3 linked regions of the Homo sapiens genome follow. The protein of the gene in region 1 purifies or fractionates together with the protein of each later gene. This does not show direct contact. Each region holds a gene or a part of one and is shown in the gene's direction. Other genes may lie near its edges.

The links.
Region 2: the proteins of RABL3 (region 1) and SIRT5 purify together in Homo sapiens (affinity purification with mass spectrometry; 2 studies listed by BioGRID and IntAct, with this or other methods). This does not show direct contact.
Region 3: the proteins of RABL3 (region 1) and GPR89A purify together in Homo sapiens (affinity purification with mass spectrometry, with the first as the bait; 2 studies listed by BioGRID). This does not show direct contact.

Annotation. Positions count from the first base shown.
Region 1 is NC_000003.12:120,697,503-120,704,616, reverse strand, and holds part of RABL3 (rab-like protein 3), read left to right. Parts: intron 1-6,043; coding exon 6,044-6,194; intron 6,195-7,114. UniProt on the Homo sapiens protein: Required for KRAS signaling regulation and modulation of cell proliferation. Regulator of KRAS prenylation, and probably prenylation of other small GTPases. Required for lymphocyte development and function. Not required for myeloid cell development.
Region 2 is NC_000006.12:13,577,573-13,584,686, forward strand, and holds part of SIRT5 (NAD-dependent protein deacylase sirtuin-5, mitochondrial), read left to right. Parts: intron 1-1,199; exon of another isoform or gene 1,200-1,261; intron 1,262-1,878; 5' UTR 1,879-2,037; intron 2,038-6,503; 5' UTR 6,504-6,538; coding exon 6,539-6,653; intron 6,654-7,114. UniProt on the Homo sapiens protein: NAD-dependent lysine demalonylase, desuccinylase and deglutarylase that specifically removes malonyl, succinyl and glutaryl groups on target proteins.
Region 3 is NC_000001.11:145,610,905-145,618,018, forward strand, and holds part of GPR89A (Golgi pH regulator A), read left to right. Parts: intron 1-1,297; exon of another isoform or gene 1,298-1,343; intron 1,344-5,329; coding exon 5,330-5,389; intron 5,390-7,114. UniProt on the Homo sapiens protein: Voltage-gated channel that enables the transfer of anions such as iodide, chloride, bromide and fluoride which may function in counter-ion conductance and participates in Golgi acidification.

The DNA of each region.
Region 1 (7,114 bases):
TCCTTTTCAATCTGTGTGCTTGTTGTCTTATTTCTTGCCTTTTCGCACTGGCAGCAACTTCCAAAAGGGTACTAACTAGGAGTGATAAGAGTGAATATCTATGTCTTACTCCAATCTTAGGGGGAAAGCATTCATTTCACTATTAAGTATGATGTCAGCTTTAGGTTTTTTTTGTTGACATCATTTATCAGGTTGAGAACATTTCTTTCTATCCCTAATTTGCTGATAGTTTTGTTAATATCATGAACAGATACTGAATTCTGTCAAAAGCCTTTTCTGCATCAATTGATATGGACATGTGGCTGCTTCTTTAGGCTGTCAGTATGGTGGATTACGTTCACTGATTTTCAATACTGGTGGATTACATTCACTGATTTTCAAATATTGAACCAGCCTTCCATTCCTTGGTCATGGTGTATTATTCATTTTATGTGTTGCTGGATTTGATTTGCTAATATTTTGTTGAGGATTTTTATCCATGTTCATGACAGGCATTGGTGTGTAGTTTTCTGTTCTCATAATGTCTTTGACTGGTTTTGGTGTGAGGATAATGTTGGCCTCATAGAATTAATTGGAAGTATTCCTTCCTCTTCTATTTTTTGGAAGAAATTGAGTATATTTGGTGTTATTTCTTCTTTGAAGGTTTGGTAGAATTTACCAAGAGACCATCTGGGCCTGGAGGTTTCTTATTTGAAAGGTTTTTAACCACAAAGTCAACTTCTTTAGTAATTAGGATTGTTCAAGTTATTTATTTCATCTTGGATGAGTTTTTGTAATTTGTGATTTTCAAGGAATTCCATCTATTTCATTAAATTTTTTAATGTATATCAATAGAGTTGTTTATAGTATTTGTTTATTGTCCTTTTGATAGTTGCACAGTTTGTAGTGATATGACCTTTTTCATTCTGATTTTGGTATTTTATGTCTTCTCTTTTTCTTGTCAGACTTGTAGAGGTTTATCAATTGTATTGATTTTTTTCCAAAGAAGCAACTTTTGGTTTCATTGATTTTTCTCTATTGTTTTTCCATATACAGTTTAATTGATTTCTACTCTTATTTCTTTCCTTCTGCTTGCTTTTGGTTTATTTTGTTCTCTATAGCTTCTTAGATTACTTACTGGATACCTTGCATTTTTGCCAATACAAGTATTTTAATGCTATAAATTTCCCTCTAAACACTGCTTTAGCTGCATCCTGCAAATGTTTAAATGTATTACTTTTATTTTCATTTAGTTCAAAATATTTTCTAATACTCCTTGAGATTTTCCCATAGGCTGTTTAGAAATGTGTTGTTTAGTTTCCATGTATTTAGAGGCTTTCCAGTTATTTTTTGCTATTGACTTCTAGCTTAATTTTATTATGATCCAAGAACATACTTTATATGATTTCACTTATTTTATATTTGTGCAACACCCGGTATGTGACCTGGGTGTTGTTGTCTCTGTTGTTTCAGTTTTCAGTGTCTTTGGTACACTAAGTAGGATCAAATCCATGCATGCACAGCTTTGGCAATGAGCTCAAGCATTCACGAACTACTTCATGGGGTTGCTTTCTCACACTTCACCCTGTCTACAGTCTCTGCCATACTTTGTGATTTGCTGGGGCTCCCTTTTTCGGTCCCCAGGCCAAATTTTCTCATGCACTTGCACAACTGCACCTATGTCCAGGGCCAAGTGGTAGAAGGACAAAGAATAAAAGCAATGGGAGTTTGCCCCACTGTCTTGAGATACAGTTCCATCAGTCAGAAAAATTTCCCTTCTGGGCCCGGCGCGGTGGCTCACGCCTGTAATCTCAGCACTTTGGGAGGCCAAGGCGGGCGGATCATGAGGTCAGGAGATCGAGACCATCCTGGCTAACATGGTGAAACCCTGTCTCTACTAAAAATACAAAAGATTAGCCAGGCGTTGTGGCGGGCGCCTGTAGTCCCAGCTACTTGGGAGGCTGAGGCAGGAGAATGGCATGAACCTGGGAGACGGAGCTTGCAGTGAGCCGAGATCACGCCACTGCACCCCAGCTTGGGCAACAGAGTGAGACTCCGTCTCAAAAAAAAAAAAAAAGAAAAATTTCCCTTCCTCTGTATTTGTAAGCAGGCGTTCCCAACCCCTGGTCCATGGCCTGTTAGGAACCAGGCCACACAGTGGGAGGTGAGTGGCAGGTGAGTGAGCATTACCATCTGAGCTCCACCTCCTGTCAGATTAGCAGAGGCATTAGATTCTCATAGGAGCGTGAATCCTATTGTGAACTGTGCATGTGAGGGATCTAGGTTGCAGGCTTCTTATGATAATCTAACTAATGCCTGATGATCTGAGGTGGAACAGCTTCATCCTGAAACCATCCCCCAAACACCTGTCCATGGAAAAATTGTCTGCCATGAAACTAGTCTCTGGTACCAAAAAGGTTGGGGACTGTTGTTTTTGAGCATTCTGCTTGTGTTATAGCCTTTGCCACAACTGTCATGAAATTGCTCAGAAGCTGGCTTACAACAGAAGGAAAAATATTGTATTTCTACACTATCTCCAAGTATTCGTGTGTCCCCTTTCTTGTTTCATGAGCCAGAACTATAGGCCTTCTTCTGGAGTATTCTGTTCACACTTTTGGGTTTTAAGCTGAGTTGCATTCAGACAAGGGGATATGGAAGGAAACTGCTAATTCAATGGTTCTTCACATTGCAGTCTTCCTTAATATGCTCACTATTAATTTTTCAGAGTCCTCAAATAGCCACTTCATGTATCCTGTCCAGGTTTTATAGTTGCATTCACTGGGAAAGACAGGATAGAGTTTGCTTATTCTGTCTTACCTAGAACAGAACCCCATTTTCTATCTTTTGATTGAAGCAAGTCTTTCAAAGGCTTTGTTTTCTGTGTGGAAGTCTAATTGTTATGTGAAACCTAAATATAGTATAAGTTTGAGTATATATATGTAGATTCCAGCAAGACCTAATAAAGAATAAGCACAACTAATTTAAAACCTATATTTCAAAGCCTCATTGATATTTATTTCCTATCTCAATTCCTTTCATCACTGATGTCTTCATTAACCTAGCTTGTTCTCTATTTTCTACTAAAATTTCTACTTAAGAAACTTATCCTTAAATTTAGGGTTAGGAGACAGCATATTCATATCAGAAAGAAATCTGCATTTTTGTCAGGGAATTCAGTAAAAGTTCTATACCCATTTGCATTTTGACACTACAGTTTCATTTTGATTCTATAGATAAACCTGCAAATGTATAAAACAACCTTAATACATTGGTGTGCTTTGTTGGTGCATTATTGTATAGCATCAAAAAATTTGGAAACAACCCTAGTGTCCGAGCAACGAAAGATTCATTGAATAAATAATGGCATATCCACATACTGGAGTAGTATTCAATGTTTAAAAAAGAATCAGGAAGATCTCTATGAACTAAAATAGAAAGATCTACAGAGGGTACATTATTAGGTTTAACAAATCAAAATGCAGAGAATATATATCGTATACCTCCTATTGTATAAGAAAGAAAAGAAATAATATGTATTTATATTTGGATAAAGAATCAGTGAAAAATAAGAAACTAATAAAAATGGTAACCTATAGGGGGCCAGGGGAGATGGGTGGATGGGTACAGTGGTAGGAGCAAGACTGCTTAGCATATATCTTTTATATCAGTTTGAGTTTTTAGCCATATTTAAACAATTTAGGTAAATTTTATATTATGTAGTTTTTACCACAATAACTTTTTTTAACTTTTTATTATAGAAAATTTTAAACATATGTAAATACAAAGAATGGAAAATGAACTCCCATATACCCGTTGCCTAGTTTCAACAATTATCAACATATAGCTAGTCTTGTTTCATCCATATCTCTACCCACTTTCTATCTTCTCCCACTCTCAACTGGATTATTTTGAACCAAATGTTAAAACATCATATCATTTCATCCATATATACTTTAAAACATAAGGGCTTTTTTTTAACATGACACCATATAATTATCACAGCTAAAACTTTAATAATAATTCTTTAATAACCAAATATTATTTTAATTTCCCCAATTGTCTCATAAATGTTATAATTGATTTTTTCGAAATAGTATCTAAATAAGGTCCACTGGTTGTATTTGGTTTCTTAAGTATCTTTTAATCTTAGGTTCTCCCTTTTTGGTTGTTTTTTTTCCAACCTCCTAGCACTTTATTTGTAGAAGAAGATGGCTGTTTGTCTTGTACAGTTTCCTATATTCTGGATTTGCTGATTGTCTCCCTGTATTGTCTTTTAAACTTGTTTCTCTGAATTCTAAATCTTCTCTGAAGTGATAATTAAATATAGTGGTCTGAAAGATGCAAGTTTTTTTGTCTTTATTTTTCCACCCAGTATTATGCATATAATATGATACCTGGCTGTGTGTCTCTTTGTGATGTTAAGGAGCTATCAGCCTTATCCATCCATGATAAAGTTCTTCAGAAGTTTACCAAAGAAGATTTCAAGATTAAATTTTAAATTGGATGCTGCAAGATTTTATGAAAAAGTTAAAAGGAAAGCTAAAAAGAGAAATAAGAGAGCAAACTATATATGTATGCTTTATATGTGTCAGTGTGCAAGGAATTGTGCAAGACTATATGAGAGATGTATGTACATCAAAGATGATATTTGATAGAAGATATGCAAAACTTTGTATGTGAGACAGAAGGAAACAGTCCTAAAGGAAAGACACTCTCAAAACTTCATTCCCTAACAAAGCGAATTGTAGCTTTGAACCATGTCTCTTTAATTAGAGTTGCTGTTGATATGAATAATCAAAGGTCTTGATCATGCTATTATTGGCTTTGATGCAATAAATAGAATGGTAATATTTTTGTGAGATGGGAGGTTGTATAGTAAAACACTTGTGTTCCGAGGCTGAACAGTTTGCTGAGGCGCTGTAAGATTATTGTGAAGGGCATAAATACTTAGTAACTTTGCCCCCTACCCCAATTTAGAATTTCTGTAAGAGAAAGAAAAGTAGTGTTAAAGGAAGAAAAAAAGCTATGCTCGACTGGGTTGTAGTGATTGGATTATGCAATATTGATTTACTGTCATAAATTGTGCACAACCAGATTTTGCTGACTGTTGTAAGTTGAGCTTATAACGTGTCAGAAATCCAAATCTGTTTTATTTCTAATATGTGAGTAGAATTTAAATTAATTCAACAGCAATGGCCTCTGTGTTCTTTTCAGTAATGAGAAGTATCATTTACATCACCACTCTGTTCTTTGGATAAATAAATTTTTTAAAAAATAAGGATTGTAATAGCCAGTGATCCAAGGCCACTAACCCTAAGTGGTTCTTATTGCCCGTCCTCTATCTCCCATGGCTCTCATTTCAGGAAACAACTACTTGGTACTAAGTTCTTTCCTTTTACTATTCATTTTGCATTTCAGCTGTTTCCTTCCATTTCCATGTGTTTAATCCACCTTTCCCAGGCTATAGTATCACCTATATTTGATTTATTCTAGGCTTCAGCTTCCCTATTTCTATTTTCTTATTCTTCTTATTTCTTTACTATTCAGACAGAAATGTGTATTGTAGATATAGAATTAATGCATACCCCAAAAGGTACCCAAGAAGCTTGCCATTTTCTCTTCTAGCACAAGGCTTGAGTGCCATGCTAGGCTTTTGGGTTTTTGCTACGATGAGGCTTAAATCCACTCTCTGCTTCTACTCTGAAATATTCCTGAGCTGTTATGTTAACCTTAGAAGACACAGCTACATTGGAAGTTAAGTCCACTGACTGTAATATACTTGATGGGCACTTAGTTGTTCAATTATTCAGTATTGTTCAATATTCAATAAAAACATGGGACCAAATTTTGAGAAGTTAGATGAATAGCTGGAATCTGATGATGAGGATGGATTGATAAAAGAACAAGTAGATGGAAGAAGTTGGAAGGAAAGTAGGTTTGTAGGTGAAGGCAGCAAAAATCAGTTAATTTTCAGTAAAATAGTGTAACTTAGTTGCACTTAAATATTACACATCTACACCAGAAAGATACATTCTATTCACCTCTTCATTATTATTTATCACAGGGATTATGATCAAGAACAGTTTGCTGATAACCAAATACCACTGTTGGTAATAGGGACTAAACTGGACCAGATTCATGAAACAAAGCGCCATGAAGTTTTAACTAGGACTGCTTTCCTGGCTGAGGATTTCAATCCAGAAGAAATTAATTTGGTATGTATTTTCACTAATGCATGCTTGTATTATTATCGGGTAAAGACAAAACTGAAGACATATTCAAATAATATATTCTAGTGAAAGAAGCTTTATACTTGAAATCAGGCTATTTGGATTCTAGTCTAAACGTAGTCAAGATTGGAATCAACATATCTAGACTGAGAGATGTGCACAGTCACTTCAGCCTTTTATGTTGGTCTGTTGGAATGTTCCAACTTTATTCTATGAATAATTTAAATCATAGGCTTCTTTTTTTGAAACAGAGTCTCGCTCTGTCGCCCAGACTGGAGTGCAGTGGCGCGTTCTCAGCTCACTGCAGCCTCTACCTCCTGGGTTCAAGCGATTCTCATGCTTAGGCCACCTGAGTAGCTGGGATTACAGGCATGTACCACCATGTCCAGCTAATTTTTTAAATATTTTTAGTAGAGATGGGGTTTTGCCATGTTGCCCAGGCTAGTCTTGAACTCTTGACTGGATTTGCCCTCCTTGGCCTCCCAAAGTGCTGGGATTACAGGCGCGAGCCACTGCACCTGGCCCATGGGCTTTTTCTTGAGAAAGGTTTTTAAAATCACACCAAAATTAAAATAAATTGATTAAAGTGGCACTATAAGCATATTATTCTTGCTTTTAAAAAGCCTCTTAGCTTCTTAAACTACAAATTTTACCTTAAAGGGCAACGTAACAAATACATGAAAAAATTGCAAACCTTAAACTAGGAGTGCTTCATAAGGACTAATTTATGTACACTTATGCATATATAGAGGATTGAGTCCCTTGATGAGATAACTAGCTCAATGAGAACTGAGCGCGTAAAAAAGCTAAGAAATGGTTGTCATGTAAGCCTGTTAGGATCCCAGAAAAAGATCCTGGCCAGCAATTTCAGTCATGGTCATGTTGTTCACAAATAGGATTTCTGC
Region 2 (7,114 bases), on another chromosome or scaffold:
TATTATCATCAAACAGGGATCATGCTGATAACATCTTATATATAGAAATCTCATATATCTTATATGTCTCTCTATATTATATATATATTTATATATCCCTATAGATCTCTCTGTATATCTTATATACATAGATATTATATATCTATATTTTATATACATATCTATATTATATATAGATCTTATATATAGAAAACATATATAGAAAAATTCTTCCCTTCCTATTTGGATGACTTACTTCCTTTCCTTGCATAATTGCTCTGGCTAGGACATCTAGTACTACACTGAATAGACAATGTGAGAGTGAGCATCATTGTCTTGTTCCTGATCTTAGAGGAAAAGCATTCAACTTTTTACCGTTGAGTATGATTTAGCTGTGAGTTTGTCATATTTGGTCTTTCTGTGTCACAGTACTTCTATACTTATTGAGAGTTTTTATTATGAAAAGATGTTGAATTTTGTCACATGTTTTACTGCATCTTTTGAGGTGATCATACAGTTTTTGTCCTCCATTTTGTTAATATGGTATATCTCATTTATTGATTTGTGTATGTTGAGCCATCTTTGCATTCCAGGGATAAATCTCAATCATGATGAATGATCCTTTTAACGTGTCAGTGAATTCAGTTTGTTAGTATTTTGTTAAGAATTTTTGCATCTATGTTCATCAGGGATATTGGTCTGTAGTTTTTCTTCTTGTAACGTCCTTCTCTGGCTTTGGTATCAGGGTAATACTGGCCTCCTAAAATGAGTTTAGAAGTATTTCCTCCTCTTTAGTTTTTTAGAAGAGTTTGAAAATAATTGGTATTGGGAGGCCGAGGCAGGCGGATCACGAGGTCAGGAGATCGAGACCATCCTGGCTAACACGGTGAAACCCCGTCTCTACTAAAAATACAAAAAATTAGCCGGGCGTGGTGTCGGTTGCTTGTAGTCCCAGCTACTCGGGAGGCTGAGGCAGAATGGCATGAACCCGGGAGGTGGAGCTTGCAGTAAGTGGAGACGGCGCCACTGCACTGCAGCTGGGGGGACAGAGCGAGACTCCATCTCAAAAAAAAAAAAAAAAAAAAAGAAAATAATTGGTATTAGTTCTGCTTTAAATGTTTGGTAGAATTCAGGTCATCAGTGAAGCCATCAGGTTCTGAGTTTTCTGTAAATTTTTTTCCCTCAAATTTCTGATATAATCTTTCACTTCTATCTTTCAGAATTGGTAGGGTGCCCCCCTTTTTCACAGAGAACATACAGGCTTTTAAAAAAAATCTGTTAGGTGAGTTTCAGATTTCATGAAAAGGCATCGTTAAATGACATTACTTGGATTAATGTCAATTTATAAGAACCTGCCTAGCACCCAAAAAGCTCCCAATGACTGATCAATGAGTTTATTTCCTCCCTCAAGGCCTCTTTTCCCACCTGGAAGATAAAATCAAGGCAGGAGTCTTCACCCAGGGTAACTTTCACCCTGAGTCCTCTTTCCTCTAACTGTCACAATGGTGCCTTGTCACCCTTCTGACATTGCTTCTAAATTTGAACAGGGTTGTAACCTTGTGGAAACTAGAACCACTGCCTGCCCTGACACCCTGGAAAAGCAGATACATGTTGGCACAAAGGATGTTTTCAATAAAGACTTTGTAGTAGTATCTTAAAAGACTATTTAGTAGCAAATACTAAATTGTATTTAGACTTTTAGTCTTAAAATACTTTGTAGTCGCAAATAAAGACTAAGAAAATAGTTTTATGTTATGAACATTTACGATCTTGGGAATAATTCCAGGTGACATTGTTCTTAATTTCTTTTAAATTCTTAATGACTTTTACAATCCTACCTTCATGCCTGATAAAAAAAAATGACAGTTTATTCAGTAGTTTTTTTGAATTCTTTTACAGTAAATGGAAATGTTTTCTAACATATAAAAACCTACAGAAGAAGAAAATAATTTTCTGGATCAAATTAGAAGTCTGTATTATATTGATGTCTCCAGATTCAAATATATTAGAAAGCAGCCGTGGAGACAACCATCTTCATTTTGGGAGAAATAACTAAAGGTATGTATTAAGCTCAAGATGATAGCCTAAGTAACTTCATGCAGCATATAAGAAGCTTTTAGTTACTGTTAGGCAGTATTCAGAGTTTTGATCTTCACAATTTTCATGACATGCAAGTTTAATAATTGTCATCTCTAACGATATTTTTAAAACTTCATGCCCCTAATTATTGAAGCTGGGTGATAAGAATATAAGGGTTCCCCATACTACACTGTTTATTTTTGTATATGTTTAAGTTTTTCCAGATTTTAACAAAAAACCCACAAACTATATTAACACCTCATTTGTTCCTTACTGAGTTTTCCAGGTAAATTGAAGTTTGTCAAAAGTTTATCATGCCCATGCTAGTTGAAGATCATGGCAATCCATTTTCCTCAAGCTTTCTTTAAATCAAGCACTGGAGTGATATTCATGTTGGTTGGATGTCACCATTGTCACTGAGTCTGGGAGCTGCTCACCAGAGTGGCTGCTGGGGCCCATGAGTCTGTTCACTTCCCTCTAGCAGCCAGTCTGCCTGCCTTCCCTGCAGAAGTAACTTTAGGCAGCCAGACAGCCTTGTCCCCTGAGGTTGTTCTGGAGACACTACACCATGTTTCTCTAACCTCTTCTCTTTTTGAGTGTCAATCTTCTTCTACAGTCTTTTTGATTGCAGAAGAGACAGGATACATTGAAAACGTGTTGACTTGCTTGCTTATTTGTAGGTGAGGTTTATCATATTACTCCTTACGCACTGTAAAATTCACGCTTTTTATTATACAGTTCTATGAGTGTTGAAAAAAATCACAAAAATAAAGATAATGTAATTTTACGTTGCTCTAAAAATTTCTCTGCTCCCCCTTACTCCCCCGACCCCTGTCCCTGGAAACCACTGGTGTGATTTCTGTACCAACAGTTTTGCCTTTTTAAAATGTCTTATAAATGGTCTCAAAAACTATGTAGCCTTTTGTATCTGGCTTCTTTCACTTAGCATAATGCTTCTCTGTCTCTCTTTCCCTCTCCCTCCCTCTGTTTCTTCCTCTCTTTTTCTCTTTCTCTCTTTCTCCCTCACTCTCGCTCCTGCTCTGGCCTTCTCTCCTTTCTTTGACAGGGTCTCACTCACCCAGGCAGGGAGTCCAGTGGCACAATCATGACTCACTGCAGCCTCAACCTTCTGGGCTCAAGTGATCCTCCTACCTCAGCCTCCTGAGTAGCTGGGACCATAGGCATGCACTGCCATGCCCAGCTACTTTTTTGTAGAGATGGGGTCTCACTTTGTTGCCCAGGCTGGTCTCGAACTCCTGGGCTCAAGTGATCCTCCTGCCTCAGCCTCCCAAAGTCCTGGGATTACAGGTGTGTGCCACCATGGCTGGCCCTTTTTTTTCTTGTTGTGAAGCAATTTTATTTTGAAATAATTTTAGGCTTACAGAAATGTTGCAAAAATAGTACACAGAGTTCTCATTATACCATTTACCCAATTTCCTCTAATGTTCACATCTTACCTAACTAGAGTGCAATGATCTAAACCAGGACAAGTACTACACCTAGACATTTACATATACAGTACTAGTAACTAATTTACAGGCTTCATTCAAATTTTGCCATTTGTCCTACTAATGTCCCTTTTCAGGTCTTGAATCCAGCCCAGGATCCCACGTAGCATTTACTTGTCATGTCTCATTAGGACCTGGGACAGTTTCTCCAGTTCTTATCTTTCAAAACTTTGATACTTTTCTGAAGAGTATTGGCCAGTTTTGCTGTAGAGTGTGTAGAACGCCCCTCAGCTTGAGTTTGGCATTTTCTCATAACTAAATTGCAGTCATGAATGCCACACAAGTGATGCTTTGCCCTTCTCATTGCATCATATGAGGAGGTAGGTGGAGTCGCCATGTCTTATTACTGGTGATGTTAACTTTGATCACTTGGTTAAGGTGGTAGCTGCCAGCTTTTCTACTATAGAGTTATTATTGGATAACACTTTTAAAGATTCATTCATGCTGTTGAAGGTATTAGTAGTTTGTTCTTATTGCTGAAGAGTCTTCATGGTATGGATAAACCACAATTTGTTTACCCATTTATAAATTGATGGACATTTGGTTTGCTTCTAGTCTTGAGCCTGGCACTATCTGATAGGCCTTGGTGTTCTATTGAACATAAACCACGTCACAGAGCACCGATATCAGACAGGGCCACTCTGTGACCACAATGGGTCAGGACAAGAACAAGGCCACTCAGTAATCACGTCTGAACTGGGACCGAAACAGGAACATTGTTGAAGCCACAAAGATGACCAAACATCCTCCCATGCCGCTAACATGAGGGACTCCTGCTTGGCCACTCACAGCTCTAGCCTCTCTTCATTCCTTCCACCTTTTAGATAAGATCCATTAACAGCATCAAATCCAGAACAAAGCCCCACTTCCATGAACCTCTCCCCAACATGATCTAACACAAGCACAAATCCTCTAATCAGTCCATTCCAGGTTCCTAACAGATGCTGCAGTTCTTCATGGCGTGTTCTATCTCTCGCAACTTGCTCGAGTACAAGTGTGTTCCTTGGACTGGAAGGCATTGATAATCCAAACAATATATAAACACATATGGAAAATCCTTGCTCAGCTCTAATCTCCTTACATAGCGTTTCCCACCCTATACTCAATTCTTTTTACTAATTTCTTGTGAATTCTTTTTTTGTTTTTATAGCAAATGCAAGAAAGTTAAGGTATATTCTTTTATCCCCTTGCCTTTCTCTTACAAAATACAATTGTGGTAAAACACATGTAACAAAATTTAGCATTCTAACCATTATTAAGGGTACAGTTCAGTCTATTCGCATTGTTGTGTAGCTAATCCCCTGAACTCATTTCATCTTGTAAAACTGAAGCTCTATACTCATTATTTTTAAGTAAAATATGTGTCTAATAAAATTAACCCTTTGTTAGTATTGAGTTTTATGAGTTTTGACAGATACAGTCATGTAACTACTACCACAATCGAGATATATAACAATACCATTGCCTCCCACCAAAAAAAAAAAAAAAAAAAATTCCCGCATGCCCCTTTTTAATCACTCCTCCCCTTTCTGGCAACCACCGTTATATTTTCTGCCCCCACAGTTTTGTTGGACAATCAGTGTCATTGTTCCAAATGTTGTCTTTCTCTGTGTTTGTTTTCTTTTTATAAAATTCCTCAGGTATAGACAAAGATTTACTGAATGTGCCTTAAGATCCACGAGTTTCTGTGACACGATGTTATCTTAATACTATTGTCACAGTACACTTCTTTCCTTCAGAATTTAGTTCTCAGTTAGAAATTACATTCTCACAGAAACTACTTTGGGCTGGGCATGGTGGCTCATGCTTGTAATCCCAGCACTTCGGGAGGCCTAGGTGGGTGGATGGCTTGAGCTCAGGAGATCAAGACCAGCCTGGCCAACATGGTGAAACCCTGTCTCTACCAAAAATACAAAAATTAGCCGGGCATGGTGGCGCGTGCCTGTAGTCCCAGCTACTGGGGAGGATGGGGTGGGAGGATCGCTGGAGCCCAGGAAGTCAAGGCTGTAGTGGGCCGTGATCACGCCACTGCACTCCAGCCTGGGTGACAGAGTGAGACCCTGTCTGAAATAAAAGAAAGAAACTGTACTTTGACCGCAAGTTGAGAGACTAGTGGTGGTTTTCATACCTTCTTTTTTTTCTTCTTTGTTCTTTTTTTTTTTTTTTTTTTTTTGAGATGGAGTTTTCCTCTTGTTGCCCACGCTGGAGTGCAATGGTACAATCTCGGCTCACTGCAACCTCTGCCTCCGGGGTTCAAGTAGTTCTCCTGCCTCAGTTTCCTGAGTAGCTGGGATTACAGGCATGCACCACCACTCCCAGCTAATTTTTTGTATTTAGTAGAGACAGGGTTTCACCATGTTGGTCAGGCTGGTCTCAAACTCCTGACCTCAGGTGATCCACCCATCTCGGCCTCCCAAAGTGGTGGGATTATAGGCGTGAGCCACTGCACCTGGCTTCATACCTTTTGAAAAGCAGCAAGTTTTCAAATGAATTCTCATATTTAACCCTTTCTTGTGCATTTTAGTGGTCCTCAAACTTGAGTAGTTACTAGAATCACCTGGAAATAGATGATGGGGTCCACCCCCAGAGTTTCTGATTCAGCAGCTCTGAGGTGGAACCAGAGGCTGCATTTCTAACAAGATTTCAGGTGATGGCGACGCTGCTGGTCTAGGGAACACGCTTTGAGAAGCACTGCTCCAAGGCACCTCTGCACCTCTAGGAGCACTTGAGAACACAAACGGAAAACAGCCAGTTCAGAGGATGATCTGTTACTAAAGATTTTTTAAAGGACATTCGTGTATGTGTGCGTGTGGGTATAATATAATATACATGATGCGTTTCTGTAATATATAAAATATAAATATTTATACATATTTCCATATATAAAAATATTTGCTGATTGTTTCTACACTATTTGTTTTTGTGATTTTTCTAAAGCCCGCCTCAAGCATTAGAACTACAGACAAACCCTGATGCGACCTCTCCAGATTGTCCCAAGTCGATTGATTTCCCAGCTATATTGTGGCCTGAAGCCTCCAGCGTCCACACGAAACCAGATTTGCCTGAAAATGGCTCGGCCAAGTTCAAGTAAGTCATTTTACCCATTGCCTCACCTGCAGCCAAATGTGAAGTACCTGAAAGTCCTACACTTCGAGAGGAATGTCTCTGTCAAATTAGGTATTGGGCAAGGTTTTGGAGAAAGCCACTCTGTCATCTTCTCTTTTTTTTTTTGAGACGGAGTCTTGCTCTGTCGCCAGGCTGGAGTGCGGTGGTGCGACCTCGGCTCACCGCAACCTCCGCCTCCTGGGTTCAAGCAGTTCTCTTGCCTCAGCCTCCCGAGGAGCTGGGACTGCAGGCACATGCCACCACAACCAGCTAATTTTTGTATTTTTAATAGAGATGGGGTTTCGCCATGTTGGCCAGGATGGTCTCGATCTCTTGATCTCGTAATTTGCCTGCCTCAGCCTCCCAAAGTGCTGGGATTACAGGCATGAGCCACCGCGCCCACCTGTCCTCTTCTCTTTTAGGTAATCCCTTCTAGGGCACCT
Region 3 (7,114 bases), on another chromosome or scaffold:
GTTAACTAACTCATGTTTTGAGCCCTCTATACCGTCATAAGACTTATCAGTTCCAGAGTACACTCTTAAGTCCTAAGGTCAAGACTCTGTACAATTCTGAAAGTATCAAGTCTCATTTTTAATAAGAAGCTATACGCCTTCCATTTTATTTGCAAAGCTATTTGAAATTGCATTTTGCTTCTGCTTTCTTTTTGGATCCTCTATAATCTTGCCAGAATTTGTGTTTACTTGGATGTAAATGAATTCTCCAGCTACTTGTGTGTGTGTGTGTGTGTGTAGTTTAAGTCTTTTTTTTTTTTTCAACTTTTATTTTATTTTAGATTTGGTACTTGTGCCGGGTATATTGTGGGAGCTCAGGTTTGGGGTACAAATGATCCGGTCACCCAGGTACTGAGCATAGTACTCAATAATTAGTTTTTCAACCCTTCCCCCTTCTCCCCTCCCCTGCCCCCAAGTAGTCTCCAGTTTCTGTTTTTGCCATCTTTATGTTGGTGAGTACCCAATATTTAGCTCCCACTTAGAAGTGAGAACATGTGGTATTTGGTTTTCTGTTCTTGCATTAATTTGCTTAGGATGATGGCCTCTAGCTGCATCTATGTTGCTGCAAAGGACATAATTTTGTTCTGAAAGTCTTTTTAAGCTTTTCTTTTTCAATGTGAAAGGAGGCCACAATGAAATATTAAAGGTATATATCTGTTTCTCTTTTCTTCCATTCCCCTCCCCACCATATAAACTTAAAATTTTTGCTTGTTTTCTCTTCCATTTCATAGCAATCTTGGTGATTTTTTTTTTAATCATCCATTTCCACTATACATACCACCCTCAGTCCTAACTGCCCAACTTCTCTGTCTTCAGTCGTGGCTTCATAAGTCATATAAATATGGTCTCTAAACTCTGAATTTACATCTGTCTCCACCGGTAAATATTTATAATAGCCAAAGGATATCCTGGACATTTTCTCCTAATCTGTTTGACCCTTTCCTTTTCTGCTTGATCTAGATGCTTGGATCCAACTTACTTTCTTACACCCTCTTGTTCGTTTACCTTCATGTATATATAAGTCCACACTTGGATCACTGCTATAGTTTGTTTACTACTAATACAGAGGCCTGAAGGCTACTATAGAAAATCACATAGCTGTGTAGTTTGCCAACGCCAGGAGTTTAACCCTCAGCTCACTGAATTATTCCTTTTCTTGACCTTAATCAGCTACTTGTTTCATTCCCCTCAAAGTTTCTCCGAATCTTTGTCACTCTCCTCAAAGCTCCTTTTTCTAACTCACCTCTCTTACTCTTAGCAGATAACCTTGCCTCGTACTTACTCAACAAAAGTGAAGCCAAAAGGTATGATCTCCTACTATGAATACTTTCTGCATTTTAATCTAAAAGGTTATCTGTGTTCACAACCATTCTTACCTCCTTTCCTCCCATTTCAGAAAACGGGGTTCCCCTACTCCGGTTTAAAGCCATTCTACCTACCTTTGATCTTAGAGTAGCGTATTTTGAAGTGGTTAAAAGCACAGATTTTCTAAACAGACAGACTCAATAAGAGCTGAAAAAATAATATTTAAAAAAAAGCACAGATTTTGGAGTCAAACAAGCTTGAGTTCAATCTTGATTCTGACACTTACTATAAATTGATTAACTTCTCTAAACCTCATCTTTCTCCGTGAAAATAGGATAATCAAACCACTGTACTGAGTTTTTAATTATTTTTATAAGATTATAATGCTAAGTACTACTTAGAGAGCCTGTAGTATAGTAAATGCTCAATAAAAGTTACCTAATCATATTAATAATAGTATTATCAGTTTATCCTCTAGTATTCCACCATCCTTCTCATCTTTTTCTCCTTACTTGACTGCTTTCTTTCCCCTTGGCCAATAAACTTTCCCTTTATTCCACATTCTTCTCTAGCCTATTATCTAATGTTTTCTTTTTTTCTCATTCCTGGCTCTCCCTAGAGTAATTTGCATTTACTGTCCCCACTGCTTTAGCTCCCATTCATTCTGACCTGCTACACTCTGGTTCCTGCCTCTACCTCACTATTCAAAATTGTTTTCCTTATCCTCTAGTGTTTTCTTCTTGGCACATTGCTCTCCTTACTCTAGATACTATTCCCAGGTGATCTCATGTACTTTGGTGGTTTCAACTCATAGGTATATCTTAGACCTGCCTTCACAATCTGTCTTTTATTCCAGATACTTGCTGGATATCTTGATCCATCTTGCTGGCTGTCCCTCAGGCCCTTAGTGTGTTCAAAAATGAGCTCATCATTTTCCCCATCCTCTGCCCCCTTTCCTAAACCTCTTCTTTCTCCAGTATTCTTTATATAAATTGGGTAGCTTCACTCTTCATCCTGTATTCCAAACTAGTCATCCTTGACTTCTCCCTGTTGATTTTACCTTCTAAATAGTTCTCAAATCTGTTTTCTCCTCTTCTGTCACCAAATGTCTTAATTCAGGGCTTTATCATCTTTCATCTGAATTCCCATAACACATTTCTATAATGTTTCTCTTTCTACACTGTTGTTTCCTTCAAGTGTGTCTTCCATACAGCCACCATACCGCTCTATATAATATAAAACAAATCAGACCATGCCATTTCCCTGCTTAAATAACCCTCATCACCTACAGACTATAATCTAAGCTCCTTAGGGTGGCCTTCAAAGCTCTCAGTGATTGGACATCCACTCCTCCTGTCTAGCCTCATTTTTAACCTCTTCCTTCTTTGAATTTCATCTTCTAGCAGCACCAAACCATGTGTAGTTCCCGGCATATACCATGCTATTCACTCTGCGCCTTTACTCATGCCCTTTGCTATCTGGAAAGCCCTGTCCTCCTACCCCTACCACCTGTTTTTACCCTACCTGATTCGTTTTTTGTTTGTTTGTTTTGTTTTGAGACAGGGTTTCGCTCTGTCACCCAGGCTGGAATGCAGTGACATGCTCACAGCTCACTATAACGTCTACCTGCCAGGCTCAAGTGGCCCTTCCACTTCAGCCTCCCCATAAGCTGGAACTACAGGCACGCACCACCATACCTAGCTAATTTTTGTATTTTTTGTAGAGATGGGGTTTCACCACGTTGCCCAAGCTGGTCTCGAACTCCTGGGCTCAAGCGATCTACCCAAAGTGCTGGGATTACAGACGTGAGCCACCATGTCCAGCCTCCCTACTTGATTCTTATTCATCCTTTGAGAGGATGGTTTTTATGTTAGGGGTGGTGGAAACCTTTGACTGTGTGATGAATACCTTGAAACCACTCTAGAAAAATGCACATAACCCCAAAATGTGCATACAATATCAGGTTTTAACCCCAAATTAAAACTTCCTTCGGCTCGGGCATTATCTTCTCCAGAAAATCTGTCCTAACCCCTTACAGATTGGTTTGGTCTCCCTCTTTCATATTGTTTTACAATATCATGTATGTATTTCTATCATTGCACATCCATATTATGTTATAATTATTTATGTACTGTCTTCACTATATTGTGAGCTCCTAGAGGGTAGTAACCATCCTATTCATCTTTGTATCCTCAGCACTTAGCATAGCACGTAGGAGTTATTACAGAAAATTTAAGATTGAATGCTGAAGAATAAACCATCTTTTATGTAGACCACTTAGCCATTCAGCAAGCACTTATGGAGAGCCTGCTACGTACCAGGCTTTGTGCTGGATGCCAAGGATACAAAGATTACAAGACAAACATGGTTTTTGTCCTCATAGAGCTTATAATCTAATGTCAAAAAATATTTAAATCACACATTACAAAACTGTATGGTAAGCACTTTGATGAGGGAAGTACAATGTAAAACAGGATTATATAAAAAGCAATTTATCTGCATTTGGGAGGGCAGAGAGGGCCTTCCAGGGGGAGTAAATAGCATAACTGGGAGAGGGCTAGAGAGAAGTTCCTTTCAGAGGACATCTACACAGGTCTCGATGTGAAAGAATATGGATCTAAAGAACCAAAGAAGTTCCAGGGGGCTGAACACATGAGTTTGCTAGGCAGCAGGGGCATGATAAGAAGCTAAAGTAGTCTGTGCTAAACTACTGAGTTTACACTTGCTCAGTAAAGTAGTCCCTAGAAAGACATAAAATCATTTTATTCATAAAGGTCCTAGCCAGTTTAAGAAGAAAAGAGTAGTTGTGTCAGTGTGTATGTATAGAAAGTTCTGTTTACTACAGACCAGCTTTATCAGCTGTCATGTGGCTACGGTCTCTGCCAGTTTGAAACAAAACTGACGAAAGAGGGATCCTGCAATCTCTCGGCTTTACATTGAGATGAAAACCACTTTTATGTAGATTAGGCAGGATGGTGGAGAAGCTAAGAAAACTCTCTGAAGGAAACAGATATAAAAAATATTAGGCTTTCTACTACTCCTCTAATTTTGGTCTCAACTCCTCTCCCCTGAAGTTTTTATTTTTTAAATTAATTTATTTTTATTTATTTTTTGAGACAGGGTCTCACTCTGTTGCCCAGGCTGGAGCGCAGTGGTGCAATCATGGCTCACTGCAGCCTCAACTTCCTAGGCTCAGGTGATCTTCCCACCTCAGCCTCCCAGGTGGCTGGGACTACAGGCACACCCCACCACCCCCAGCTAATTTTTATGTGTGTGTGTTTTTTGTAGAGACGGGTTTTCACCATGTTGGCCAGGCTGGTATTATTTTTAAATACTTGCAATCAGGGATCATCCATAAGAAGCAAGTCTCACTCTGACACCTTTTCTTTTTTTTCGAGACCTAGTCTCACTCTATCACCCAGGCTGGAATGCAGTGGCACGATATTGGCTCTCTGCAACCTCTGCCTCCCAGATTCAAGCGATTCTCATGCCTCAGCCTTTGGAGTAGCTGGGAATACAGGTGCCCACACCCAGCTAATTTTTGTATTTTCAGTAGAGACGGAGCTTTGCCATGTTGGCCAGACTGGTCTTGAACTCCTGGCTTCAGGTGATCTGCCCACCTTGTCCTCCCAAAGTGCTGGGATTACAAGTGTGAGGCACCGTGCCTGGCCACTGACTCCTTTTCTATTTGCAAACTTCTCTGGCTCATATAATGATTATCATAAGATTATGGCAAAATATGTACTTCCATTTTTGTCTTAAAGCATACTCTGTAACATGGATAACTTCAAAACTCCAAGGGCATTTAAAAATTTATTTCCAATGTCATGAGCTTTAATAATAGGTCTTATAAGAGTGGATCTTATCTTTAATCCCTGAAATAAGTTAACCGTCTAGTTAGCAGACCTTTTATCATAAAAGAGTTTCTATAAAACATTTCTCAAAAGAAAATATGTATTGACATTCTATTTTCTTTCTCCTCCAGATACTATTTTTTGGATTTGGGTGGCTTTTCTTCATGCGCCAATTGTTTAAAGACTATGAGGTGAGAAGAAATCATTTTGTCATACTTACACTATATGATTTAGATTGACAAGAAAAATGTCTCCATTAAAGAAACATTATGTTCATTTCCAAGATAGGAAGCTTTTACCAAATAAGTACTATATAACTATTAGATTGCAGAATATAAGTAGACTTAATTGATTTAAAAGGGGGGAAAAAAGGCAAATCAAATATAGCCCAGAAGTTAGGAGCAAGGATTATGTCTTAGTCATATCAGGATATGTACCAATAGCAAATAGTTATTCTGTAGGAGAGAATTTAATTCATAATGTCTCACAAATGTTCCCTTTCATTTGTCTATCTGGCCCTGAATTGCAAACCTTATATTATAAGTTAATACCAAAATCCCAAGGCTATCAGGGGAACCAGTCCCCAATATTTCAACATAGGTTCTTTCTGTTTTCCTTAAGTGTCGGCCGGTCTGAGAAATAAAGAGAAAGAGTACAAAGAGAGAAATTTTACAGCTGGGCCTCCAGGAGTGCCATCACATATTGGTAGGACCGTGATGGTGACTCCGAGCCACAAAACCAGCAAGTTTTTATTAGGGATTTCAAAAGGGGAGGGAGTGTACGAATAGGGAGTGGGTCACAGAGATCACATGCTGCAAAGGGCAGTAAAATCACAAAGCAGAGGCAAAAATTAGAATTACTGATGAGGGTCTGTGTCCCACTGTGCACACATTGTCTTTATAAACATTTTAACAGGAAATAGGGTTCAAGAGCAGACAACCAGTCTGACTAGAATTTACCAGGCTGGAATTTCCCAATCCTAGTAAGTCTGAGGGCACTGTAGGAGACCAGGGTGTATTTTAGTCCTATCTCAACCGCATAAGACAGACACTCCCAGAGCGGCCATTCATAGACCTCTCTCCCAGAATGCATTCCTTCCCCAGGGTTATTCCTTGCTGGAAAAAGAATTCAGCAGTATTTCTCCTACTCGCTTTCTGCAAGAAGAAGAGTATGACTCTATTCTGCCCAACCCCGCAAGCAGTCAGACCTTATGGTTATCTTTCCGTGTTCCCTGAAAATTGCTGTTATTCTGTTCTTTTTCAGGGTGCACTAATTTCATATTGTTCAAACACACATGTTTTTCAAACAATTTGTACAGTTAACGCAATCATCACAGGGTACTGAGGTGACATACATCCTCAGTTTACAAAGATGACGGGATTAAGAGATTAAAGTAAGACAGTCATAAGAAATTTAAAAAGTATTAATTTGGGGAACTAATAAATGTCCATGAAATCTTCACAATTTATGTTCAGAGATTGCAGTAAAGACAGGTGTAAGAAATTATAAAAGTATTAATTTTGGGAACTAATAAATGTCCATGAAACAATTTATGTTCTTCTGCTGCGGCTTCAGCCAGTCCCTCCATTCGGGGTCCCTGACTTCCCGCAACACAAGGCTGGTGTTGTTTTTATCTTAAGCTTTGGATTCAGAAGATCACCACCCTAGACTCGACATTTCCTAGTTAGTTCTCCTAATTAGTAATAAGATCAGTGGTTATAGTCTACATTTGGGTCATTTCTAGGATATTCTCCATTAAACTTTCCCAGGGAGTTTATTGTCTGAAAGAGCCTGGGATTCTGGAGATTTTCTTCTGCCCAATACTTTAAGACCTCCCGAGGAAGGTTCCAGAACTGATCCAGGATCTGCAGAGTGTTGAAGAACCCCTTTAAACATTAACCATTATGTACGAATCT